Homo sapiens: one gene and its partners. The protein of the gene in region 1 interacts with the protein of each later gene in a pairwise test. Each region holds a gene or a part of one and is shown in the gene's direction. Other genes may lie near its edges.

What was found.
Region 2: the proteins of SRPK1 (region 1) and DHX8 interact in binary tests that used the Homo sapiens proteins (3 or more experiments, as listed by UniProt).
Region 3: the proteins of SRPK1 (region 1) and YTHDC1 interact in binary tests that used the Homo sapiens proteins (3 or more experiments, as listed by UniProt).
Region 4: the proteins of SRPK1 (region 1) and LUC7L interact in binary tests that used the Homo sapiens proteins (3 or more experiments, as listed by UniProt).

What each region holds. Positions count from the first base shown.
Region 1 is NC_000006.12:35,869,072-35,876,098, reverse strand, and holds part of SRPK1 (SRSF protein kinase 1), read left to right. Parts: intron 1-1,759; coding exon 1,760-1,866; intron 1,867-3,370; coding exon 3,371-3,536; intron 3,537-5,139; coding exon 5,140-5,165; intron 5,166-5,604; coding exon 5,605-5,818; intron 5,819-6,197; coding exon 6,198-6,617; intron 6,618-6,988; coding exon 6,989-7,027. UniProt on the Homo sapiens protein: Serine/arginine-rich protein-specific kinase which specifically phosphorylates its substrates at serine residues located in regions rich in arginine/serine dipeptides, known as RS domains and is involved in the phosphorylation of SR splicing factors and the regulation of splicing.
Region 2 is NC_000017.11:43,486,971-43,493,997, forward strand, and holds part of DHX8 (ATP-dependent RNA helicase DHX8), read left to right. Parts: intron 1-2,478; coding exon 2,479-2,564; intron 2,565-3,420; coding exon 3,421-3,493; intron 3,494-4,194; coding exon 4,195-4,280; intron 4,281-5,212; coding exon 5,213-5,322; exon of another isoform or gene 5,323-5,404; intron 5,405-5,691; exon of another isoform or gene 5,692-5,710; coding exon 5,711-6,070; intron 6,071-6,474; coding exon 6,475-6,619; intron 6,620-6,712; coding exon 6,713-6,916; intron 6,917-7,027.
Region 3 is NC_000004.12:68,312,066-68,319,092, reverse strand, and holds part of YTHDC1 (YTH domain-containing protein 1), read left to right. Parts: intron 1-230; coding exon 231-267; intron 268-339; coding exon of another isoform or gene 340-363; coding exon 364-403; intron 404-511; coding exon 512-574; intron 575-2,644; coding exon 2,645-2,779; intron 2,780-4,769; coding exon 4,770-4,994; 3' UTR 4,995-7,027. UniProt on the Homo sapiens protein: Regulator of alternative splicing that specifically recognizes and binds N6-methyladenosine (m6A)-containing RNAs.
Region 4 is NC_000016.10:219,435-226,461, reverse strand, and holds part of LUC7L (putative RNA-binding protein Luc7-like 1), read left to right. Parts: intron 1-5,714; coding exon 5,715-5,813; intron 5,814-7,027. UniProt on the Homo sapiens protein: May bind to RNA via its Arg/Ser-rich domain.

The sequences.
Region 1 (7,027 bases):
TTTTTTTTTTTTTAATTTAAGAATCCAGGCTAGTTGTTTTATGCCACCTTAGTTTGGATTTGTTTGATTGTTTCCTCATGATTAAATTCAGGTTAACCGTGTTTGTCAAGCATAGTACATGGATTATTGCATTAGAATATGCATTCGAATGCATATTAGTATATTGCATTAGAAGGCACATGGTGTGAATTTGTGCTTATCATTGGTGGTAGTAAGTTTGATCACTTGGTTAAGGCAGTGCCTTCCAGATTTCCCAGTTGTAAAGGTACTTTGTTCTTTTTGTAATTAATAAGCAATCTGTGGAATGATATTTTGACACTGTGACAATCCTTTTTCCCGACAGTCTTTCACATAGTTGTTTTAGTATTCACTGATTCTTACCTGAATCAGTAATAGTATACTATAGTGATTGTAAAAATGGTGATTTTCTATTTCTGTAATCCCTTATGTATTTATTATTTGGCTTTCTTCTCTAAAGAAGATGTTTCTCTTCCTCCTGCCTCCACACTTACTTTCAGATCAGTGTGGACTTGTTCTGTTTTTAATTCATATATTAACTCATAATTTTATCCTTTATAGTGGTCTGGCCGGGCGCAGTGGCTCACGCTTGTAATCCCAGCACTTTGGGAGGCCAAGGCAGGTAGATTATGAGGTCAGGAGTTCAAGACCAGCCTGGCCAATATGGTGAAACCCCATCTGTACTAAAAATACAAAAATTAGCCCAGCGTGGTGGTACACACCTGTAGTGCCGAGAGGCAGAGGTTGCAGTGAGCTGAGATAGTGCCACTGCACTCCAGCCTGGGCAACAGAGCCAAGACTCTGTCTCAAAAAAAAAAAAAAAAAAGAAGTCTCCATGTTGGCTGGTGACATCCTTTTCAAGATGGTTCCTGTTTCTTCCTGACAGGTTCTTTTATTTGTTAGAACAGCAAGGTGTTCCAAGTTTACCCTGTTATTTTTCCTACCTTGGATTTGGCCATTTTTCCAAGGAGCTCAGGCTTTCCTTTAATGGAGAATGTTAAAGTCTGAGCACTAGACCATTACTATATATGTATGTCTTAACTTGCATGTAGAAGCCAGTGGGGGTGGAAGACATCAAGATACTACTAAAATCTCTGTAGTGCCCTGCACAATTTTAGACTCAGAGTATTCCTGCTGTGTGGTGTCATCAGGTTGTTCATACATAAGGACAACACATGGTGGCACTGGAATCAAGATTAGTTTTGTAAAATACAGAGCATTAAGCAAGTTTCCTATTTAAAAAAAAATGTTGGCATTTACGTTTTTGAGGTTTAAGTCTTTCTTGTACATTCATCTCTTCTATAGTTAAGGAATAATTTGTTTTTCCTTGCTTTGAAGCTGTGAGAGTGGGAATTTTTACCCTGGACACCAATTTTGATATTAGGGAAGAAACTAATTTACCTGAAGCTAATCAACAGCTTGAGGCTTGAGCCTACTGCTTTCTTTCACTATTTGCATATGTAGGTTTCACTTTTTCTTTTACCATTGAGTATTTTAATGTACATAATAATATTGATGAAGCCAGCCGCCCACAATTTAATGTTTCATGAATGCTTTCATTGACTATAGCATTAGACTTTGAAATTTTAGAATATTAACAGCTACATATTTATTCATTCAAGCTCTGTAACTTTTTATACTGAAAGAAAATAATACATAACATTTAATAGGGTGGAATTCACAGCTTGTCTTGCCGTGTTCTTCTTTTGTGCCGTTTTTTCCCTCCTTAATGAATTCCTAGATATCTGCATGGTATTTGAAGTTTTGGGGCATCATCTGCTCAAGTGGATCATCAAATCCAATTATCAGGGGCTTCCACTGCCTTGTGTCAAAAAAATTATTCAGCAAGTATGTATCTTGAATCAGCAAGTATCTTAGTCTTGACTATGTAGTGATTTTTTAATATTCTTGAAGTGTCAGGACTTTATTTTTTCCAATAGAATTTTTGTTTTAAGGCCGGGTGTGGTGGCTCATTCCTGTAATCCCAGCACTTTGGGAGGCCGAGGCGGGCAGATCACGAGGTCAGGAGATCAAGACCATCCTGGCTAACATGGTGAAACCTCCTCTCTACTCAAAATACAAAAAGTTAGCCGGGTGTCTTGGCAGGCACCTGTAGTCCCAAGCTACTCGGGAGGCTGAGGCAGGAGAATGGCGTGAACCCAGGAGGCGGAGCTTGCGGTGAGCCGAGATCACACCACTGCACTCCAGCCTGGGCGACAGAGCGAGACTCCGTCTCAAAAAAAAAAAAGAATTTTTGTTTTAAAATTCTTTGTTTTAAAAAGTAAGTTATTGGCTGGGCGCGGTGGCTCACGCCTGTAATCCCAGCACTTTGGGAGGCCGAGGCGGGCAGATCACCTGAGGTCAGGAGCTCGAGACCAGCCTGGCCAACAGTGCGAAACCCCGTCTCTACTAAAAATACAAAAATTAGCCGGGTGTGGTGGTAAGCGCCTATAATCCCAGCTACTCGGCAGGCTGAGGCAGGAGAATCGCTTGAACCCGGGAGGCGGAGGTTGCAGTGAGCTGAGATCGCGCCACCGCGCTCCAGCCTGGGCGACAGAGCAAGACTCCATCTCAAAAAAAAAAAAAAAGTTAATTGCTAAAATTAAATATTTCATTCAACCTTTAGAATTTATTGTGCTTATTCTCTTTTTAAATGTTTTAGCATAACCATTTTCCCCCAGGTTTGCCTCCTATAATAATTAGAAAGGGAAGCTGAGGTTCCTGACTTGGGAACATTGGAGCCCTTATCCAGAAGTTCTGGTTGCAAATAGTAATTTTACATGAATAGATAATTGCTATGTCAGATTATTGCCATCTCTTTATACAGCATGATTCATAGGCATTTTCTAATTTTCTAAAGAGCCTTCAATATACAGTATAGATTTTACCATCAGGAAAATATTAATACTTCAAGGTGCAAAAATTTGTTTGGATTATATGTCCTGGAAAGAGCTCCAAACTGGGCAGCAAGAGACCTCAATTCTTCCTCAGTGAGGAAATTTGAATTAAAGATATCTAAATGTCTGTCAGCACCTACATTACAACACTTAGAGGGTGTGTGTGTGTTGAAGTTTATTCTCAGTCTTTGCATTGTACATAGTTGAAGAATATCTCCAAATAGAATCAGCTTTGTAAAACATTGAAGAATTTTTTATTGTAAATAATTTCTTGCCTTTTTCATAGTTTAATCTTTCTGAGAAAGTTTATTTGTGCTTTTTTAAAAGGTGCTTTTATTCTCTATAGAAAACGCTATCATATCTTTTTTTTTTTTTTAATGTCATGTTATAATCTCTTACTTCTCCAGAAAGCCTGTATTTTGTGTTTGCAAGTCTGCCACTCTATTTCCATTCAGGTGTTACAGGGTCTTGATTATTTACATACCAAGTGCCGTATCATCCACACTGACATTAAACCAGAGAACATCTTATTGTCAGTGAATGAGCAGTACATTCGGAGGCTGGCTGCAGAAGCAACAGAATGGCAGCGATCTGGAGCTCCTCCGCCTTCCGGATCTGCAGGTGTATTTTCTTTTAGGGACTTCGCTATCATTAGAAGTTAAAAAGAAATTTCTATTTTTATTCTGTTACCAGGGAATTAAACACCACTCAATCCATTTCAACAATAACATATTTAAGAAACATTATCAGCTTCCAAGAGACATTCTCACTGTTACTTCCATAGGGGAAGGAGAAAACTAGATATTGTGTCTTTGTGTTGTATGTTATAAAAGCTGGTGTGTATTGTTTAAAAATATTTTTTCTTATGAGTTGATGATTTTTGAAGTGTTTACCTCTAACTGTGATCACACATGCTCATTTATAGGACTGGTAGTCTGTAGAGGGACAAGATAACATTGCTATTAATAGTTTAGGTTTAAACACTGGAGTAGACAGACTTGGTTTGAATTTGGGCTTCATCCTAGACTGAGAAACCTTAGCTGAGTTATTTTACTTTATTTTCCCTCAACTGCGAATTATTGGGATTAAATGGTAAAGCAGTTAGTAGTGTGCCACACAATATTATATACCAAATAAATTGCGGGACCAGGCACAGTGGCTCATGCCTGTAACGCAACACTTTGGGAGGTTGAGGTGGGTGGATGATTTGGGCCCAGAAGTTTGAGACCAGCCTAGGCAACACAGTAAGACCCTGTCTCTACAAAAATTAAAAAAATTAGCCAGGCATAGTGATGCGTGCCTGTAGTCCATTTACTCAGGAGGCTGGGGCAGGATGATTGCTTGAGCCTAGGAAGTCAAGGCTGCCACGAGTTGTGATAGTACCACTGCACTCGAGCATAGGCAACAAAGTGAGACCCTGTCTAAGACATAAAATTAAATAAATAAATAAAGGCTGCTTTATGATTTTTTTTCTTTTGAGATACAGATTTTAGTTTTAGTAGTGTGTCATTTTTTAGGAACTTGCTTGATCCTCAAGTTGAGTTATTAGTTATACACTTCTTTAAAAAGGAAGACTAAAGAAGGGGGAAATGGGGAGTTGGTTGTTAAATGGATGTAGTTTCTGTTTTACAAGATGAAAACATTCTACAGATCCTGTTATACAACAGTGTGAATAGTGTTAAAACCACTGAATGTACACTTATCTAGAGTATAAATTTTTATTATGTGTTTTTTGTTAACCACAGTTATTATACTAATATTTTAAAAAGAGGAAGACTGAAGATCCTACCTTCCAGCTAAGCTACACTGTTATCCATGACATGCTGTAGAGCAAATTACTATAGCTCTTGATGTCACCTAGACTCCCCTTTTAAAACTGACAGATTCTGGGTAGCATTTGAGGTGAAGAGGTTGTTGCTTGTCCCATTCTATTTTAAGCAGTGCATGGGAATGGAAAATAGGTGATTTTTAGCAACTTTAGTTTACCTGGGGAGGAAGAATTTTATTTATCCCTTTTTTTTAAGTTTGGCAATTTCTATTCATTATTTTCTTTAAAAATGGTAATAATATAGCTTCTACTTAAGTCATTTAAAAACAATAGTTTTCTCTGCAATGTAGACTACATAAGAAAGACTTTTCATTCTGGTAGAGTGTTTTATCTGAGCCTTAGTTTATATTGCCTGATGAATGCCAGAATTCTTACTTGGTTTTCTTTTCTTTTCAGTCAGTACTGCTCCCCAGCCTAAACCAGTAAGTATAAGGTGTTTTTATATTTAATTTTGATCTATGGACTATGGGCATGGGTTCTTCTGTTGTGGATGGTAACAGTTTGTTTCAAGTTTGAGAACCAAAAGGAAAAAAAATTCCTGCGCTTCTATAATTTTCTCCAGTAAATTCCCATGCACCTTCATCACATTTGTACTGGTGAGGCCTCTAAAAAATTCGAGTTTGTCTGAATGTAAACCAACCCCACGGACTGCTCAGAAGACCACACTTTGTTATTTATTCTGTTTTTATTTGGGTTTATAAGAGTATCCCGCATCTTTTAATTTAATGAAAGACTTAAGTGCTATGTTAGGGAAAGATTTGTGAAATTTAATTAGGAAGTAATTAAAGTTAACAACTATCTCCAACTGGGGGTAATTAATTAGCCACCTGAAGGCTTTATCTGTTTGTAATCTCCGCCCAGGCTGACAAAATGTCAAAGAATAAGAAGAAGAAATTGAAGAAGAAGCAGAAGCGCCAGGCAGAATTACTAGAGAAGCGAATGCAGGAAATTGAGGAAATGGAGAAAGAGTCGGGCCCTGGGCAAAAAAGACCAAACAAGCAAGAAGAATCAGAGAGTCCTGTTGAAAGACCCTTGAAAGAGAACCCACCTAATAAAATGACCCAAGAAAAACTTGGTATAAATAGAACATCACGAAAATTACTGTACAACACACTTTAACGTTAATTTATCATTGCTATATAATACAGTGGTTTCATACATACAACACATCTCTGGGGGTATCTTTATAAGAATATGGATCTTGTCATAAATGTTAGGCAGGTAATATTTAAATGTAATTTGTAACTTTTCTCAGGAAATGGAACATAGATTTCATTTAACAATTGGGTAAAAGTAAGATCTTGGCCCTTCCGGAAATAGGTTTTAGATGTTTAGTCATGTTTTTATGTCACTCAGTATAAGTTCTAGAAAATGTTTTAATCTTGTGAGAAATGTTTCTGTTCTTTCACTCACACACATATGCATATATCTTTTTTTGTTCGTTTGTTCCTTAGAAGAGTCAAGTACCATTGGCCAGGATCAAACGCTTATGGAACGTGATACAGAGGGTGGTGCAGCAGAAATTAATTGCAATGGAGTGATTGAAGTCATTAATTATACTCAGAACAGTAATAATGAAACATTGAGACATAAAGAGGATCTACATAATGCTAATGACTGTGATGTCCAAAATTTGAATCAGGAATCTAGTTTCCTAAGCTCCCAAAATGGAGACAGCAGCACATCTCAAGAAACAGACTCTTGTACACCTATAACATCTGAGGTGTCAGACACCATGGTGTGCCAGTCTTCCTCAACTGTAGGTCAGTCATTCAGTGAACAACACATTAGCCAACTTCAAGAAAGCATTCGGGCAGAGATACCCTGTGAAGATGAACAAGAGCAAGAACATAACGGACCACTGGACAACAAAGGTACCTATGCAGCTATACTTCCTCAACACTCCTTCCCTGCACAACACATTCACAGATTTCTAGACTAAAAGTATGATTGTTTTTGTAACTATAGCTTTACAACAGGTGTGTCTAAGTTACGTTTAAATTGTAATCTGTAGCTAACTTTATCCATCATGTACTGAGTACACAGCACTTCATTTGTTGCTGTGAGGGCAGAGGTTTTTAATTCTGGAAACTCAAGGCGTTGCTGTGCTCTTTTTGTCTCAGAAAATGTAAGTTGTCACTTGGGTATTGCTGACTGTATTACTCTTACCTTGGAGAGCTTTATTACTCATTGAGTATTTCTCTGTTCATTGAACAGTCTTATTGATGATGCCTGTTGTCTGTAGGAAAATCCACGGCTGGAAATTTTCTTGTTAATCCCCTTG
Region 2 (7,027 bases), on another chromosome or scaffold:
CCATGGGACTTAGTTCTCCCTCCACATTTCTTGAAAGAATGTAGCCTCTGAAGTTAGATTGCCTGGGTTTTATTCCTAGCTCCCCCCAGTTATTATTGGGTAGGTCAGTGTCTCAAACCGTCAGCTTCCTCATTGTAAAACATGACAATAATAGCACCTACTTATGAGGGTTGTTTTGGGGATCATGAAGTAACCCATAAAAAGCACTTAGCATAGTGCCTGGCACGTAGTAATGTTCAAAAAGTATTAACCATTGACATTATCGTTACTAACTTATTATGCATAAGATGTGTTCGTGTAGCCTGATGGCATTTGGCTTTCACTTTATCAGAAAGATAAAGGCACATTCCAGGATGGAAATTGTATGGTAGTACTACTTTATGAGTTAGTCATCTAGATCTTTCATGTTATTTATTCATTTACTTTTCTAGGATTAGCATTCAAATGAAAGCATTACAGTTTTTTTGTGGGTCTCATAGTATGAGGCTTATTATCTCAGTCTACTCCCGAGTAGCTAGGACTACAGATGCATACCACCACCCCCGGCTGATTTTTGTATTTTTTGTAGAGATGGTGTTTTGCCATGTTGCCCAGGCTGGTCTTTAACTCCTGGGCTCGAGCAATCTGCCCACCACAACCTCCCAAAGTGCTGGCATTACAGGCGTGAGCCACTGTCTGAAAGTAGCTTAATAAATAGCTCTAATATTAGAAGTTTCAAGAACTAGGCCGGGCACAGTGGCTCATGCCTGTAATCCCAGCACTTCGGGAGGCTGAGGCAGTAGGATTACCTGAGGTCAGGAGTTCAAGACCAGCCTGGCCAATGTGGCAAAACCCCGTCTCTACTAAAACTACAAAAATTAGCCAGGCGTGGTGGAGGGCACCTGTAATCCCAGCTACTTAGGAGGCTGAGACAAGAGAATTGCTTGAACCCGAGAGGCGGAGGTTGCAATGAGCCAAGATCGTACCACTGTACTCCAGCCTGAGAGACAGAGTGAGACTGTTAAAAAAAAATGAAAAAATAAAAAAAGTCCAGGTGCGGTGGCTCATGACTGTAATCCCAGAACTTTGGGAGGCCGAGGCAGGCAAATCACAAGGTCGTGGGTTCGAGACCAGCCTGGCCAATATGGTGAAATCCTGTCTGTACTAAAAATATAAAAATTAGCCGGTCATGGTGGCATGCGCCTGTAGCCCCAGCTACTTGGGAGGCTGAGGCAGAAGAATCGCTTAAACTCAGGGGGCAGAGGTGGCAGTGAGCCAAGATCCCGCCACTGCACTCCAGCCTGGGCGACAGAGCGAGACTCCGTCTCAAAAAAAAGAAAAAAAAAAGAAAAAAAGAAAGTTTCAAGAACTAGGCAGGTGTGCCGGGCACAGTGGCTTATGCCTGTAATCCCAGCACTTTGGGAAGCTGAGGCGGGTGGATCACAAGGTCAGGAGATCAAGACCATCCTGGCTAACATGGTGAAACCCTGTCTCTGCTAAAAATACAAAAAATTAGCCAGGCGTGGTGGTGGGCGCCTGTAGTCCCAGCTACTCGGGAGGCTGAGGCAGGAGAATGGCGTGAACCCGGGAGGTGGAGGTTGCAGTGAGCCGATATCGCACCGCTGCACTCCAGCCTGGGCGACAGAGCCAGACTCTGTCTTAAAAAAAAAAAAAAGAAGAACTAGGCAGGTTTGTGGAGAAAAATTTGGCAAAAAAGTCTTTCATCAATGTGGAGATTGCACCACCCAGCAGCTGCCTGGCCCTCATATACAGATTGGGTCTGTCCTTCTGTTGTGTGCCTCTGTGTGTCTACATGGGCTCATGCTTTTTATTGTCACCTTTACAGTCTAGTCTAGGTGGCAGCGTGCCCAGGTAGTGGTTTTGTGAGAAGAGGGTACCATGATGTGGGTCAAATAGGTCTTCCTAGTTTAAATGCACTCAAGGGCTACATTGAGCCATTTTGTAGTAATATCTTCCTTTCATTTGTATAAATTCTCTAGAATATGTGTGGATAATTTCAGCAGTCTAGATTTTCTCTCTTGTTTTCTTGTTTTGTTTTTTTTGTTTTTTTTTGAGACGGAGTCTCACTCTGTTGCCCAGGCTGGAGTGCAGTGGCGCAATGCCGGCTTACTGCAACCTCTGCCTCCCGGGTTCAAGTGATTCTCCTGCCTCAGTCTCCCAAGTAGCTGGGATTACAGGTGCCTGCCACCACACCCAGCTAATTTTTGTATTTTTAATAGAGACGGGGTTTCACTGTGTTAGCCAGGCTCATCTTGAACTCCTAACCTCAAGTGATCCGCCTGCCTTGGCCTCCCAGAGTGTTGGGATTACAGGCATGAGCCACCACACCTGGCCAGATTTTCTCTCTTTACCCTTACCAGATGGTGGTCTTTGTTTTTTATTACTGTTGGATAACCTAATTAGTTTTGTTTTCACCATACTTGAAACTGATTTCTTGTTCATGTCTCTTCTTTTCTGAATTCTGTTTCTTATTTGCAGCTGAATTTGTGATCAGTCTTGCTGAGAAAAATACCACCTTTGATACTTTTAAGGCTTCTCTCGTCAAAAATGGTGCAGAATTTACGGTATGTATATGTGGAGAAGATAATCTGTAGATATTAATGTTTTAATTTATGTTTGTTTGTTTGTTTTTTTTTTTGAGACAGAGTTTTGCTCTGTCGCCTGGGCTGGAGTGCAGTGGCGCCACCTCAGCTCACTGCAAGCTCCGCCTCCCGGGTTCACGCCATTCTCTTGCCTCAGTCTCCCAAGTAGCTGGGACTACAGGTGCCTGCCACCATGCCCGGCTAATTTTTTGTATTTTTAGTAGAGATGGGGTTTCACCGTGTTAGCCAGGATGGTCTCGATCTCCTGACCTCGTGATCCACCCGCCTCGGCCTTCCAAAGTGCTGGGATTACATAATTTATGTTTTAATGTCACTATTGATTTTAAATTTTGATAGGGTTTAATATAGGATTTTGATATAGGAAGGAGACAATTTTATACATATCAATTAAATAAGCCATTAAGTGTGTAATGTTTTCATGCCATTAAGTAGTGATGATTTAACCAGATTTTCTGTGATACCTCTAGGAAAACAGGGCAGGATTTTCATCATTAAGTCTTTGTAGGTATTTACATTCTTGTTCTGTGAGTCAGGAAGTTGGAAACAAGTTTTGGGGGTAGTTCTAAACCTTGGGAAATAAAATGGTTGCAGGGAGCCTAATAACTTTTCTCCCCAAAGAGTCCTAAATATCGGCTTTCTCTGAAGCTATTATACTAGGTTCATGCTACACCAGGTTGACACACTATGTTTCATGTATTCCAATTAGCTAAATTCAAGTGCGTAACCACCCTTCCCTACAGGACATTCTTTGCCTTTTAAGTGTATTTAAGCACTGATATGGGAGCTGACAATTTTCGTTCTATGTTTCTTTTCAAAGGATTCTCTTATTAGTAACTTGCTGCGTCTCATACAAACCATGCGGCCTCCAGCGAAGCCTTCCACTAGCAAAGGTAAGCAGAGCTTCCAGCTGAGCTTAGCTTCTAGAATGGTGTAGGTTTTGAACATCCTGTAAATTGCATTTGTTTTCCTCTCAGCAGTTGCTGAGCAAGTAAATGTTCCAGTAAGATTTTTCAAATGGGCTGGGCCTAGCGGCTCACTGCTGGAATCCCAGCACTTTGGGAGGCCAAGGTGGGAGTATCACTTGAGCCCAGGAGTTTTAGACCAGCCTGGGCAACATAGAGAGACCTCATCTCTACAAAAAAATAAAAAAATTAGCCAGGCATGATGGCGTGCCTCCGTAGTTCCAGCTACTTGGGAGGCTAAGGAAGGAGTGTTGCTTGAGTCCAAAAGGGTGAAGCTGCAGTGAGCCATAGTTGCACCAATGTACTTTAGCCTGAGTGACAGAGGTTTTTTTCCCCGTTTCAAGGGGAAAAAAAATTTCAAACGACTTAAGACAAAATAAAAAAGATAAGACATAACCCAATGAGTATTGCTACACTCCTCTTTCTGCTACATTTCGAGATAGTTTGTGATCAATGTATTTAGAAAATTAAATTACATTTATAGTAACAGGTATGATTAATATATAGCAAAATGCCATGTTCTGTTTCAGTTTGATACAAATCTATTGTTGAAGTTATTTTGTTAATCATTAATAATATTAAATATATATCTCTTTTTTTAACCCCTTCATGCTCTTTAATGAAACAAGATCCAGTTGTTAAACCTAAAACAGAAAAAGAAAAGCTGAAGGAACTCTTCCCAGTCCTTTGCCAACCGGACAACCCTTCTGTTCGGGTACTGATACCATTTTAAGAGTGTCTACTATAAATATATATTCTCAACCCCTTTTCTTTGTCTCATAGTAATTTTATTAATTTTAAGTTTGCCTTTGTTGTAACTTATTTTTAAGAATGAAAGTGTTTGATCACTCCCTGAGCATGTACTATGTATTGAATTTGTTAAGGGGTTCTGAGAATGATATTCAAGGGAAATGAGATTGGGAATTTGGGGAAGTAGTGATTAGGAATATGAAATAAGGTTCTGGAACAGATGCCTAAGGTGTGAAATTAGATTTTTTTTTTTTGCTCTGTTACTTGTTAAAGGTCTAATTTTTAAAGCATTTTGATTTTTAAATTTCATTTTAATAAATATTTATTGAGTACTTACTGTATGCCAAACACTGTTCTAAGTACCTGGATAACAGCAGTGAACAGAACAGACAAGAGTTTCAGCCTTTGGAGATTATATCCTAATTTTGGGGTAGGGAGCAGGAAATAAACATGTAAACATTCTGGTGGGGAGGAGATAGGCAATAAACAAACAAATAGGTATGTAACATAGCAGATAGCAATAAGGGCTATTTAAAAAAATAAAGCTGGAGTGGGGGTAGGGAGGAAGAGTGCAGAGGGAGAGTTGCTTTTTAAAATTTTTAACACCTGTTTTCTATTAATATAATCATCACTTGCATTCTTTCATGGCAGGGATGATTAATATCTAACTGCCTTTCATAGAATTCTATTAAGGACAGAGGGGATTTGTCAAATGTAGCAGTAATTCTCAAGAGCCTTTTTTCCATTTCTTCTGCATCTATCCTGAATCAAGTTTGAAATCTCTGCCCCTCTTCTATTTCCCTCACATAGTGATTAGTGATTTATAGATGTACCTGAGGTACATACAGATTCTTGAGTAGTTTTTTTTCCTAACTTTGCCGGCCTCTACCTCTGCAGACCATGTTGGATGAAGATGATGTGAAAGTTGCTGTGGATGTCCTGAAAGAACTGGAAGCTTTAATGCCCAGCGCAGCAGGCCAGGAGAAGCAAAGAGATGCTGAACACCGGTTTGTCCTTAGTGTCCTGTCCTTTGGAAGTTTAGGGTACTGTGACAGTTGAATATTATGGACCAGCCAAGCAAAATTTTGGGCAAGTTTACAGAATCTGGACTGGTCATATATCATATTGTTGGATCTGTTTTCATTGCTTCCTGCTAAGTGTATGTAGCAAATGCTAGGTTGTTCAGAATATAGAAGTCAGGGTTGAAAGAGGCTGAATATGTTTGTGGCTCAATTCTTTATTGGCTTATAGGGATGTCGTAGTTATTGAAACTCTAATTCAGTTCAAAACCTAGTGGGTACCTACCATGTGCATGGCACTGTACTGGGTGCTTGGGGATGCGAAGATGAAATCGGATTGGTTTCTTTTTTAAACAGGTGCTTATTGATTTGTTAGGGACAGGACAAAGAAGAAGAAGCGGAGTCGAAGCCGAGATCGAAACCGAGATCGAGACAGAGATAGGGAACGAAACCGAGATAGAGACCACAAGCGGAGACACCGATCCCGCTCTCGATCACGTTCCAGGACCCGGGAGAGGAATAAAGTGAAGTCTAGATATCGGTCCAGGAGCAGGAGTCAGAGTCCCCCCAAAGACCGGAAGGACCGGGACAAATATGGAGAGCGGAATCTGGATAGATGGCGGGATAAGCATGTGGACCGCCCTCCTCCAGAAGAGCCCACCATTGGTGACATTTATAATGGCAAAGTTACCAGCATCATGCAGTTTGGTTGCTTTGTGCAGCTGGAAGGACTAAGGTAATGACTGGTGCTCTTTTGTTCACACCAGTGATGGGCAGAATTTCTTTTATCACTGAGGATGTTCACATTCTAAAAAGTTACTTTGATTAATGACACTTTAGTCAAATCAGCCATACATGGTTCTTAGAAATTGACTCTTTTGAAATGTTACAGAGCCATTTATTCCTTTCTCTGTCTTCAGGAGATCTGTCCTTTGCTTGTTGGGACAGATAGAATTTGCTTCCCCACCCCATGTCTCCCCATGAGGAGAGTGTTAATACTATTTTATTGTTTGACCACCTTCATGGTACTTTTCTCTTGAGTTTAAGACCATTTTCTTTTGTTAGTTCCAGTAAGGGTAGAAATTGGTTGGGGGAAAAATATTTTTTGGCATGTTCCAGATGTGTCTGGCTCTCCCTCAGGAAGCGGTGGGAAGGCCTGGTGCACATCTCTGAGCTCCGGCGGGAGGGTCGTGTGGCCAATGTAGCTGATGTCGTGAGCAAAGGCCAGAGGGTCAAAGTCAAAGTGCTGTCCTTCACTGGGACCAAGACCAGCCTGAGCATGAAGGTAGGTGAGATGGTCAGCCTGTTCTTACATGTGATGGCCAAGGGAATGGAAGAGGACAGCAAGTGAGACAGCTCCCTTGTTTTTGTGCCTTAGGATGTGGATCAAGAGACTGGAGAAGATCTAAACCCAAATAGACGGCGAAATCTTGTCGGGGAGACCAATGAGGAGACCTCAATGCGGAATCCTGATAGACCCACTCACTTGTCCCTTGTCAGTGCTCCTGAAGTAGAGGACGACTCACTGGAACGCAAGCGCCTCACCCGAATCTCTGACCCAGAGAAGTGGGAGATCAAACAGGTTGGGGCCTTTAGTTTTCATGACCAGATAGTCATTCAGCATGTAGCATGGTGCTTAGGGGTGTGCCCTGGAGCACGATGGCCTGGGATAACTTTTGGCCACTGTATTAGT
Region 3 (7,027 bases), on another chromosome or scaffold:
CTATCTGAAAGCTTCTCTAGCAGTTTACAATTCTATGATATCATTAGTTATTTCCTAGATTATCATGTAATCTGAGAAGAAAATTTGAAAATGGGATAATACAGTAGTAGCATCACTTAAAGTACATATTTCATGGAAAGAATTGAAACGAGTGGTAAGGAAGGTTTAATTATAATGCCATAAAAGAAAAATATAAATTTGATTTACTAAAATGCTTGATGTTTGAACAGGGTATTTAAAGGATCCACGATACCAGGAAGTGGACAGGTAAGTCGGGTTCACTCTTGCCTAGTTTTGAATTACATTCTTGGAACTAGTTTATGAATTACCTGAATTTAGTTTCACAAATCTTATTCCCAACAGACGATTTTCAGGAGTTCGCCGAGATGTGTTTTTAAATGGGGTAAGCATTTCATTTTATCTATTTAATGTGGATAAAATCAGGCTCTGATTTATTTTGCAGTTCTGTGATAATTTTTAATTATATTGACATTATCATCTTTTATTTTAGTCCTACAATGATTATGTGAGGGAATTTCATAACATGGGACCACCACCACCTTGGCAAGGAATGGTTTGTATTATTCTATTTTTATAAGTTACATAACTTAATTTGCAGTTCTAGTATTTCAGGTGCTTACTCGGAATATGATTGTTACAGTTACTCATTAAAGAGACTTAAACTGGCCAGGCGCCGTGGCTCACACCTGCAGTCCCAGCACTTTGGGAGGCTGAGGCGGCTAGATCACCTGAGGTGAAGAGTTCGAGACCAGCCTGGCCAACACGGTGAAACTGAAACCTTGTCTCTACTAAAAATACAAAAAACATTAGCTGGGTGTGGTGGCGTGTGCCTGTACTCCCAGCTACTCGGGGAGGCTGAGGCAGGAGAATTGCTTCAACCCAGGAGGCAGAGGTTACAGTGAGCCGAGATTGCGCCACTGCACTCCAGCCTGGGCAACAGAGGGAGACTCCATCTCAAAAAGACTTAAAATACAGATTTTTGATGATAAATAATTGTATGCTGTCTTTCAAACTAAAGACTAAAAGCTCATTTGTGTTAATAGTACAGGCTTGAGAACTGTAATAGTGTATTATGGTAGTAATTAGTAGTGCAAAGTCCGCTTGGGTTCAGATATATTTCTTTTTCTTCCCAACTCTGTGACTTTGGGTTAATTTCTTAATACAACTCTTAGTTTTCCTCATCTGTAAAATTCCATGGGCATTCACTGATGCTTTGTCTTATCAAATATAATATTTAGTACTTACTCTGTGCAAGGCACTGTGCTTGTTCTGATTATATCATGGTGAATGAAATTGACATCATGACTGTCCTGGTATAGCTTAAAATTTAATGTAGTAGTGTCATTTTCATTGTCAAGATAAATTTACAAAGTACATGTTAAGTTTAGCATAGTGCCTGATCTAATACTCACTAAATTTTCTGTGTAAAATAAGATTAATTAAACCCTGATTATTCCTGCTTTTTAATTATTTCCTTTAAGAAAACTGAATTGTCTTAGAGTATATTTTAAGATATTGAAGATAGCTGAAGCATTAATTTTCAAGAAATAAAAACCTGGAAGTTGAAGTAGCTTCTACTGTTTTCTTACATTTTAATTTATGTCTTTTTTTAAATGCAATATGTTATATGGCCTCTTCATCTGACTTTTGTTTCACTTTTAAGGTATACAGTTTTATACTATTATATGCAGATGATTATGAGACTTTTCCCCTTTAGATTCTAGGAAATTTTAAAAATTTAATAATATATGATCTTGATAGTAACTATGAAAGTAATCTTTAATTTACCCTTTATTCATTTTTTAAATGGCATTTAAAAGTTAATTTGCTCCTGGACTTTTTTTTTGAGAGACAGGGTCTCATTCGGTCTCCCAGGCTGGAATGCAGTGGTGTGATGATAGCTCTGTGCAGCCTTGAACTCCTGGGCACAAGTGGTCCTGCTGCCTCAGCTTCCTGAGTAGGTGGGACTACAGGCACATGCCACTGTGCCTGGCTAATTTTTTTATAGAGACAAGGTCTCACTCTGTTACCCAAGCTGGTCTCCAACTCCTGGCTTAAGGGATTCTTTTCCCTCAGCCTCCCAAAGCACTGGGATATGGGCGTGAGCCACCACACCAGGCCTGTTGATGTTTCTAAGAACAGATACATACAAAGTGGTTAACCAGTTTACCAACTGCAGAACTAGGATGCCTGATGCCGTATGCCTGCTTCACCACTTTAACAGTAGTGTGACTATAAGCAGGTTACTTAACTCCTTGTTGCTTCAGTTTTCCCTTTTGTAAACTGGGAACAATAGTATCTATCTCATAAGGTTGCTGTGAGAATTAAATGAGACTAGTAAAGTGCTTAGAACAATGCCTGGCTCACAGTAAGCACCATGTAAGTGTTTGCTATTTCCATTGTTATTTATATGATAGGAGTAGAAAAGCATAAACATGTTAAATCTTAGAAGATGTGTAATTTTCGACAAAAAGCATATTTTGAAACACCTTAATGCCATCAAAGTAAATGTCTAGTACAGATTCACTTGTTTGGGATTGGTGTTTTGGATGAAGGGTTCTAAGAATCGCTTGTTTACAAGGGTGTTGGTAGATTCTTAATGTAAATGGTTTTCCTTTTTTAGCCCCCTTACCCAGGAATGGAACAACCTCCACACCATCCTTACTATCAGCACCATGCTCCACCTCCTCAAGCTCATCCCCCTTACTCAGGACATCATCCAGTACCACATGAAGCAAGATACAGAGATAAACGAGTAGTAAGTGCACAAGGAGGCAAAGGTGTGAGGGAACTACTTAGAATTCTGTAGGTAACTTAAATATGGGGAGACCAGAGTATGATGATTGACGGACCATTGCATATTCTTACTGCAGACTGTTTTGGAATAATTGTTTGTTTTTATTAAAAATGCCTGATTATGCCCCTTTGGATTATATAGATAGAATATATTTCTTTTACTGATCAAATCACAAACTGCTTAAGGCAAACGCCTACAAATAGAACTCCTTTTAGGTAGTACCTAGGCTATGTTCTTTCCATATTGAGATCTTAATTATGCTATGTAATTAATATTGTTAATAGATATTTCTGAACTTTTTGTGTATTCTTACTCAATTTTTCTAGGATAGATCGTGTATATTAAGTTAGCTGATAAGCTGTAATCTCATTTAGTCATTTGTTTTTATTTCTACCAAATGTTAAAGCTAGTAACTGATAAATTGTTTTACCTCTGGTTATTGTGATGTTAGCAAAGAATAACCAGATGTTATGATATGTAGCAGACATGTCCTTTATTCATTGATTCTGTTAATTATTTGATAAGATTGATGTGAAAGCTTTTTTTGATGGCTTCAAAACAGGACCAGTGAAAAAAAGACTCTAGTTTTAGTTTGAGTTTTCTGGGTTTTTAACTAGTGGGGCTGAGTTTATTAAATGCTTCCCCACCCCCCCCAATAGTACTTTTATTTATAAAGCAGAATTGTCTTCTGGCAAGTGTTGGAAGCATAATTCATATGCATATAAGTTTGATAGCCTTAGAAAGGTAGTTTTGTTGTTAAACTAAGTAGGATATGCAAGTTAGAATTTTTTTCCACTCCCTACTTAGGTTGATGAGTCTGTATGGGGCCAAATAAACATCTTTTTATTTTCCCACTTAAGATGAAGAGTGGGCCTATTTGTGAGAATCAGAGCAGCTTTCTAGCCTATCTTTGAGACATTTTTTTGTGTTGTCAGTAATTTCCTTATAAAGATAGTAATTTTCTCTAAATCAAATCTTATCATGACTTCTAACATTCTGTAAAATAATTTGAGAGTACTAGTTAACTAATTCACAAACTTTAAATTAGTAGTTTATTTTCAGTTAAGCACACAAGAAAGAAATATACAGTCTATCTATAATGAAATCTTAGTTGACTAGATGGGTTGTGGTGTCTTAAAAATTCCCATAACTGATCACATGGCTTTTAAAATAGGAAGTCTGAGATTTTTTTGTTTTCCTCAACTATATCCTTTTTAACAAGTTCTATTTTATGGATCTTTATGTAGTGATTTTTTGGTTAGTATACATATTCTCTACTTACATAATCACATATATAAAAGGTAATGTGGGACTGTGTTTTCAAATCTTATTTCAGCTAAGTTTTGAGAGAAGACCAAAATCAGTAAGGTAAGCTGAGAACTAAGAGTAGAAAGTTTAAACTAGAGCAGGGGCCAAGTTTAGGAGCAGCCACAACTTTTCTTGCACATCAACTTAGTTGTAACAATTTAGTTTGAAAGAAAATCTGGAACATAATACTCAGTTTGTAAAATTGAAGTTGGTAGAATTGGAGGAAAAATGTAGAGCTAGCCTGTGCCAGAAAAACATTGATGACATTTAGCATAATTGGCAGTATATATGGATAATAGTTGAAGGTCATCACTAGTTAATATCTTTGGCCTAAATCTTACTGAAGGGATCAGATGGAAAAGTCATTAAAGTTAAGTGGAAAACTGCATAAAGAGATTTGAATAATCTGTTGTAGATGTCTAATGAGGCATCATCCTTTTTCTAAACCATGTCAGCATATTACCTTCTGTGAATTAATTTATTATTGCATTTCTTTGGATTGTTCTCTCCGCCGATTATAATACAGAGACTTTTCTTTTTTTATATTTTAAAATTGTTTATATAAATTTTTTTTTCAAATCAGGGATCCACTTAACACTATTTGCCTTTTTGACATACCTAACACATTTCTTTCCTTTTCTAGCATGATTATGATATGAGGGTGGATGATTTCCTTCGTCGCACACAAGCTGTTGTCAGTGGCCGGAGAAGTAGACCCCGTGAAAGAGACCGGGAACGAGAGCGAGACCGCCCTAGAGATAACAGACGAGACAGAGAGCGAGATAGAGGACGTGATAGAGAAAGAGAAAGAGAGCGATTATGTGATCGAGACAGAGACCGAGGGGAGAGAGGTCGATATAGAAGATAATGGGCTTTTGGAAGCACTGATTGTTTAAAGATACAAAAAATCTTGTATTTTTTTTTTGTGTGTGTTTACAAGTAGTAAATTTATTTTCAGCTGTCTGCCTATGAAGTTCATTGTGTAGAAGGATTTATTATGACCCCCTTTGTTCCAAGCATGCAGTATCATAAGAACTGGAAAAACTCAAATCCGCCAAAAATCCACAGCTGACAGTTGAATTGACACTTTTATTGGGGCAGAATGGAACAGTCCAAGAATGTAGATACTGATTCTTTCTCCATAAATGTTCTTATAGTGTGTTCATCCTAGAGTTATTTTTTTGTTTGTTTTTTTCCTTTTTGGATCTTGATTGATAACTGCCATGATATTTTGCTTTGATGTGTTTCTACATGTAGTTGCACACGGTTCAGTAAAAATAATGCTGCTATCGAGTATGCAAATATTGAAGTATGATGGTTTGACTGTATGGCAGTGTTGTAGCAGCCTCTTGTTTTTTTCCCCATTGCCTCTTTTTTTAAAAAACTTATAAAGTCACTTTTTATTTTTCCTCAGTCTTCAATGACGAGAGCAATATTAAGAAGACATTGCTATCTAATTTTTAATCTTTTTAAATGAAAAATTCCTATGTTCAGTAGCGTGGTTGATGCTATTGTTTAGCCTTCCCCTCCAAATTGTATACATTGGCTTGGAATGTTCACAACTTGCGTGCGTGGCAGCGGAAGACGATTCCCATATTCTACATTGCTACTGTTTTGTATAAAATAAATTGGTAAAGATTGACGGTTATCTTTTGTATCTTTTTCTTATCCAATTGCAGGTTTGTTTTATTATGCAATAATGGACATAAAAGCATGCTTTTTGTTCAGGAATTTTAGGAACCCCATTTGCTTTTTTTGAGGCACACTTTAGCAGAAATGATTGACCTAGGCCTGTTGCATTAAAAGCTTACTTCTATTTCTAACATAAGATACACAGAGTTATGTTAATAATTTGGTTAAGTATTTATACACCTGATAACATTTTGAGTCTACTCTGATCACAGAATCGTTTATTTAGGTTTTCTATTTGTTGTTTTAGTCTTCTGTAAGTGAACGACTTTGTACATGCTTTCTACTTTACTTCATAAATGGACTTTTAACCCTCTTGTATTAGTTCTGTATTTTAAGTTAACTGTCCAGTTCTCCCAGTGGTAACCAACTATAACATAGAAATAGAGCCGCTCAAGAAAACAGTTTATGAAATAATTTTTTTGAATTTTTTCTTGAGTTACACCTGGAGTTTTGGCCTTTGGAATTTGGCCTTTATAAACATTAGGAATATTTGAATGTTTGATTTTTTTATAGTATCAACAGTTGTACTGTGTACCAGATCACATAGTACAGTTTTACATTTAATCTATATTGGCCTGAAAAGAACAACACAGGCACTTTACTCTTAAAGGATATAATAAACTATAGTTATACTGCATTCATATTCATACCAGCATGTAGTATCTTTCCCTGCATTCACAGAAGTTTTATTTACAATGACAAAACTAAAGCCTGAGGATTTGTTTTAAATCTGCATTGTGGTAGAGAGGAAAAAGTACTTTTAAGGAAACCTGGGTTCTAGTTTTGTCATTGTCTTTAATTAAACCGGTTAGTGATACATGGTAAGTCACTTCATTGGCATTTTGTGTATTCATCAGTAAGCTAGACAAGATGATAGCTACAGTTTAAGAATTTCTGTAACCATTATACAAAACTGGTAGGTAATATTAAAGGTATTTTCCTGAAATAATAGGAATAAATACTGAGCACTTTGTATGCAATAGAGACTTTGTGCTTTTATATACAGACTCATTTAAATGGGCTCAGAGAGGCTAGTAAACTTGCCCAAGATTAGAAAGGTAGTAATTGATGGGCCAAGATTTTACCCATGTTTTTATTTGGTGTTTCTAAACCACCTCATCACTTTTGAAAAAACAGTATATAAATTAATAAATGTTTTGGAGATGGAGTCTGTCGCCCAGGTGGAGGGCAGTGGCATGATCTTGGCTC
Region 4 (7,027 bases), on another chromosome or scaffold:
CTTTGTATAATGTGCATTTATTCGAAGTAAGAATTTGAAAAGACTGAATAGTGGAAGGTTATCTGTGGTGATTACGCCACTGAGAGAAAAGGAGTCCTGTAGAGACCACCCCCATTTTAAGGTTTCACAGCTACCTCACGGAGGTTAAAAACTATCCTCTCATTTTAAGGATGAAATGTGCATATGTTAAAGGAAGTTTTCTTCATGATGAATCATTGCTTATATTAGGGAGGAGCACCTTCTGGAAAACCGCTCAGATGTATTAAAACTTCTCAAGCTGAGTTTTCTGACAGCAAATGCGAAATGAATGCCAAACCTTGTGCCTCTGTTCCTTGGGGTGTTGTCTGCTGTTTGGCCTGGGATGGGAAAACGTTACTGTTTGATGCAGATTGTTGTGTGTACCGAGGTCAATACAGATTAATGATTTCAACTCGTCAAAGGAAGTTTCACTGTAGGGTATTTTCATAGGATGCACAACTTGGAATTCTTGATAAACCCATAGTGAAGGAAGTCAGAGGGAGCAGATAGATGTGCACTCTCGGGAAGATTTCAACCATGTTTTCCTTGGCCAGACCCTGTGTAGCATAGCTGCAGAATACTGGTGAGAAAAATAATCTGAGTGAGAGTATTTCTTTTCTTTTCTTTTCTTTTCTTTTTTTTTTTGAGACAGAATTTCAGGCTGGGTGCGGTGGCTCACGCCTGTAATCCCAGTACTTTGGGAGGCCGAGGCGGGTGGATCACCTGAGGTTGGGAGTTGGCGACCAGCCTGATCAACATAGATAAACCCTGTCTCTATTAAAATACAAAATTAGCTGGGTGTGGTGGCGCATGCCTGTAATCCCAGCTACTCAGGAGACTGAGGCAGGAGAGTCACTTGAACCCGCGAGGCAGAGGTTGTGGTGAGCCGAGATCGAGCCATTGCACTCCAGCCTGGGCAACAAGAGCAAAACTCTGTCTCAAAAAAAAAAAAAAAAAGAGACGGAGTTTCGCTCTTGTTGCCCAGGCTGGAGTGCAGTGATGTGATCGTGGCTCACCGCAACCTCTGCCTCCCAGGTTCAAGCCATTCTCTTGCCTCAGCCTCCCGAGTAGCTGGGATTACAGGCATGCACCACCTCGCCCGGCTAACTTTTGTATTTTCAGTAGAGACGGGGTTTCACCATGTTGACCAGGCTAGTCTGGAGCTCCTGACCTCGTGATCCACCCACCTTGGCCTCCCAAAGTGCTGAGATTACAGGCATGAGACACTGCGCCCGGCCAGAACTGTGTTTTCTGAAGGTTCCGGAAACTTTGGTGCCCTTCCTGGTCAGTAGTGTTAGACCAGTAGAAGGTACAGAAGAGAACACAGGTTGTGGAGTAAAAAACGCCTGACACACTGGATTTAGCAGCCATGTGGAATATTGTGGAAGGACTTAATGAATGTGATATTTCAGCTCTGCTTGATGTTGGGCATCCAGGGGAATGGCCAGTAGTATTTTTCCCTGCCTCCTTGGCAAAGCTGAAAAGCTACATCCAAAGAGGGTAATCATAGAACCCAAGCCTATCCTCAGTGTGCTTAAGCAGGGACTCTTTTGGGAGCTCTCACATTGAAAAGTAAGTGCTGAATTTTGCTTCATGTGAGGTTTTTTTTTTTCAGACGGAGTCTCACTCTGTTGCCTAGGCTGGAGTGCATGGTGCTATCTCTGCTCACTGCAACCTCTGTCTCCTGGGTTCAAGCAACTCTCCTGCCTCAGCCTCCTGAGTAGCTGGGATTATAGGCGCCCGCCACCACACCTGGCTAATTTTTTTTGTATTTTTAGTAGAGATGGGGTTTCATCATGTTGGCCAGGCTGGTCTCAAACTCCTGACTTCAGGTGATCCACCCACCTCTGCCTCCCAAAGTGCTGGGATTACAGGCATGAGCCACCGCGCCTGGCCTCATGAGGTTTTCTTTTTTTTTTATTTTGAGACTGAGTTTCGCTCTTGTTGCCCAGGCTGGAATGTAATGGCTCCATCTCAGCTCACTGCAAGCTCCGCCTCCCGGGCTCAAGCAATTCTCCTGCCTCAGCCTCCCGAGTAGCTGGGATTACAAACGTGCGCTACCACACCCGGCTAATTTTTGTATTTTTAGTAGAGACGGGGTTTCACCACGTTGGCCAGGCTGGTCACGAACTTCTGACCTAAGGTGATCCGCCCTCCTCGGCCTCCCAAAGTGCTGGGATTATAGGCATGAGCCACCGCGCTCGGCCTCATGAGGTTTTCTAATGTCATATCTTTCTTGACAGTTGAGTTTTTTATAATGGAAATCAATTTGTACTTCATACTTTGTTGTACTTCAGGTTTTAGGGTCTGCTTCCTTTGGTAGTAGCTTTTTCTTTGAACAACAAAGCCTTGATTAGTTTAAAGCATTTTTTCTGATAGCTGCCATTCATTTTTCAGCTACAATGCTTAGTTTGTGGAAACTATATATTTTAAAGGACAACACCCACAACTTAGAAGAGTGAATGAGGCCAGGTGCGGTGGCTCATACCTGTAATCCCAGCACTTCGGGAGGAGGAGGAGGAGGCGGGTGGATCACTTGAGGTCAGGAGTTTGAGACCAGCCTGGCCAACATGATGAAAACCTGTCTCTACTAAAAATACAAAAATATTAGCCGGGCGTGGTGGCGTGCCCCTGTAGTCCCAGCTATTCGGGAGGCTGAGGCAGGAGGATTACTTGAATCTGGGAGGCAGAGGTTGCAGTGAGCTGAGATCGTGCCACTGCACTCCAGCCTGGGCGACAGAGTGAGACTCCGCCTCAAAAAAAAAAAAGAAAAAACAGAGTGAATGAGGTAAAAGTTGTCAGATTTTCAGTGACAGTGATTTTAAGTGCAAATTTGGCTTCTAGAACCACTATTGTCCTATCTCTAAGTCTTCTATGTAACCGACCATAACGTGAGTCCCATCTGACTTCAGAGTAAGAATGATAAAGGAGAAAAGTCAATCTTTCGTCAAAATAAACATCACCATACAAGGCAGACCCGTTGTCTGCCGCCTCCATGTTAGCTTTATTATTGGTGATACTGAAGGATGTTTTGTTAGTGAGTATGCCACGTGCTTTCTTTTTTTATCTATTATTTTATTTTATTTTATTTTTTTGAGACGGAGTCTCGCTCTGTCGCTCAGGCTGGAGTGCAGTGGTGCGATCTTGACTCACTGCAAGCTCTGCCTCTCTGGTTCATGCCATTCTCCTTCCTCAGCCTCCTGAGTAGCTGGGACTACAGGCGCCCAGCTAATTTTTTTTGTATTTTTAGTAGAGAAGGGGTTTCACTGTGTTGGCCAGGATGGTCTTGATCTCCTGACCTCGTGATCCGCCCGCCTCGGCCTCCCAAAGTGCTGGGATTACAGGAGTGAGCCACCGTGCCCAGCCTAGCATGCTACATGCTTTCTATGAGACTGCATCCCAAGAGTCAGACATGCAAGCCTCTCTATTTTTTTCCCCCTCAAGATGGATTAAAGGTTTAAAGCCTTCCTTTCTTTTTTTTTTTTTTTTTTTAAAAGACGGGGTCTCTTTAAAAAGCTGGGCGAGGTGGCTCACGCTCGTAATCCCAGCACTTTGAGAGGCCAAGGTGGGTGGATCACCTGAGGTCAGCAGTTCGAGACCAGCCTGACCAACATGGAGAAACCCCATCTCTACTGAAAATACAAAATTAGCTGGGCGTGGTGGCACATGTCTGTAATTCCAGCTCCTTGGGAGGCTGAGGCAGGAGAATCGCTTGAACCTGGGAGGCGGAGGTTGCGGTGAGCCGAGATTGCACTACAGTCTGGGCAACAAGAGCGAAACTCCATCTCAAAAAAAAAAAAAAATTAAAAAGACAGGGGTCTCTGTTGCTCAGACTGGAGTGCAGTGGCTCAGTCACAGCTCACTTGAAGCCTTGACCTCCTAGGCTCAAGCGATCTCTTCCCCTCAGCCTCCCAAGTGGCTGGGACTACAGGCACATACCACCACACCCAGCTAATTGTTAATTTTTTCATAGAGACAGGGTCTTGCTATGTTGCCCAGGCTGGTCTCAAACTCCTGGGCTCAAGTGATCCTCCCATCTTGCCCTCCCAAAGGTGTTGGGATTACAGACATGTGCCACTGCAACTGGTACTAACGTCTTTTTTTTTTTTTTTTTCTGGTTATGTAGACATGTTCTTTTGTCCTACTGGGGGTGTCTCCTAGTTGGGATGTTGGGTTTTGTTAACATGCACTCTATAACTTGACACGATGATCCTCAGCACACAAACCTCCCTGTTGCTGTGTAGATGGCGAGAGGCAGAAGGTGTCTGCATAGAGTCCTATACTTAGGATTTAGATTAAAATCATACACTGTTTTCTAATTGTACTGCATATGGTACACATAATAGCACATCATGCTGTTCTTACTGACAACATAAATCATTTTGTTTTAGTAATGGAACGTTTTGCTTGTCAAATGGAGGAACTGAGTGGGACAATTATCTGTCCTCACTTAGATGTCCAGGGTCATTTCCCAGGCTAAGAAAATGTGTAGAGCATGTATTTGGCTACGAACCAGCCTGTTCTCCTTTATTCCCTTTGATACACAATCAGCTACACAAAGCCAAGTGTTAGGTTGTGATGTAATTGCCAAAATCTAACTTCTGTCCGCTCTTTCCTCTTCCTCTGTCTCTGCATCTTAAGCATCGAGCATCTCAAGTAGTCAAGATTGCAAGACAATGCCTAGAAATTTGTTGCAGTGAGACTGTTTTCTGGCCCTTTCCTTTTTTTTTTCCCCTTTTCTGAGACAGAGTCTCACTTTATCACCCAGGCTGGAGTGCAGTGGCACAGTCTTGGCTCACTGCAAACTCCACCTCCTGGGTTCAAGCGATTCTTGTGTCTCAGCTCCCCAGGTAGCTGGGATTACAGGTGCCCTGCCACCACACCTGGCTAATTTTTGTAGTTTTAGTGGAGACTGGGTTTTATCATGTTGGGCAGGCTGGCCTTGAACTCCTGACCTCAAGTGATCCGCCTGCCTCACCCTCCCAAAGTGCTGGGATTACAGGCGTGAGCCACCACGCCCAGCCCTGGCCGTTTCCTATCCCTGCCACCCCACATGCTGCCATTTACTGAATCCTTGGACTGATGCATAAATAAAACTGGGCCAGGCACCGTGGCTCACACCTGTAATGCCAGCTCTTTGGGAGGCCAAGGTGGGTGTATCACTTGAGGTCAGAGGTTCAAGACCAGCCTGGCCAACGTGGCGAAACCCTGTCCCTACTGAAAATACAAAAAAAAAAAAAAAAAAAAAAAAAAAAAATTAGCTGGGTGTGGTATCACGTGCCTGTAATCCCAGCTACTTGGGAGAATGAGGCAGGAGAATTGCCTGAACCCCGGAGGCAGAGGTTACAGTAAGCTGAGGTCGCGCCACTGTACTCCAGCCTGGGTGACAGGTGAGACTCCTTAAAAACTGGCAAAAGCCAATTAATGTAGTTGTGATGATTACAGTCCAATTATCTCTGGGTCTAAAATAGAAACTTTACACTATTAAATGCATCAGTTTCAAGTATCACGTAGTCACGATGGTAAAAGTGAAATGAGGCTTCTCAGCCATATCTCCTTTCTTAATTTTCTTATTGCAGTGTCAGTGTTCCAAAAGTGATCATTTCTGTTGGTGACAGTTGAAACACCAAGTCGCGTTGTGTGCTTTCTACAGTAGGTAGGCACTGAGGTCTGCATTTTCTGTTTCTTTCCCACAGCGCATGGATTTAGGAGAATGTACCAAAATCCACGACTTGGCCCTCCGAGCAGATTATGAGATTGCAAGTAAAGAAAGAGACCTGTTTTTTGAATTAGATGTAAGTTTTATTTAATGTTGATTTATTCCTACTGCGAAGAACCCAATATTGAACTAACAAGAAAAATGTAACATACGTAAGTTATGAAGCAAAATAATAAGGTAGTTGCTTGTTATCCTGCCACTCAAGCTCAGAGCTAGAATACAGCCAGTACTGTTTATATGTTGTGTCCAGCGTCCTGTCAGTGTCCTAAATGATAATATGTGTTATCTCATTTTGTTGCTTTTAAAAATTTTAATTACATTTTTATGAGTCCTTGAACAGTGTTTATTTTTGCTTAGTTTTGAATGGTTTCATAGTGTAGAGTCTTTAAAATTAGATTTTTTTGGTTCAGTATCATGTTTCTGTTTGCCCAGGTTGTTGCATATAGTTTTCATTGCTGCTTGAATAATTCTCAAACGATCTTTGCTTTATTCATAGACATTTAGATTGATTCTAGTTTTGCTACTGCAGACAATATGAATATTTTTGCATAACTTCCTTGTCACGTGGATAAGGATTTATTTTGGGTATATTCCTAGGAGAGGGATTGCTGGTTTATAGGAGATACCCGTATTTATCCTCGCAAGACAATTTTGTAATGTTGTCTTCTTGTTTCTATTTGGTAAAGTCCCATAGCAGTGTCTGCACGCTCACCAACACTTTGTATTATCAGACTGTTTAATTTTTGCAGTTTAGTGGTTGTAAAATGGCATTTCTTTCTGATCTCAATTTGCATTTTTTTAGTACTCAGTAGTTGTGTTATTTTATCTACATTAGTAAATTCTTTTTTTTTTTTTGAGACGGAGTTTCACTCTTGTTGCTCAGGCTGGAGAGCAGTAGTGCGATCTTGGCTCACTGCAACCTACTCCTCCCAGGTTCAAGCAATTCTGCCTCAGCCTCCTGAGGAGCTGGGAATACAGGCATGAGCCGCCATGCCCGGCTGATTTTGTATTTTTAGTAGAGATGGTGTTTCTCCATGTTGATCAGGCTGGTCTCGAACTCTCAACGTCAGGTGATCCGCCCGCCTCAGCCTCCCAAAGTGCTGGGATTACAGGTTGAGCCACCGTGCCTAGCTTCTTTTTCTTTTTGATACAGAGTTTCACTCTGTTGCCCAGGCTGGAGTGCAGCAGCATGATTATAGCTGACTGTAAGTGAATTGCTGGGCTCAGGTGATCCTTCTTCCACAGTCTCCTAAATAGCTAGTACTACAGATGCACACGACCATGTCTGGC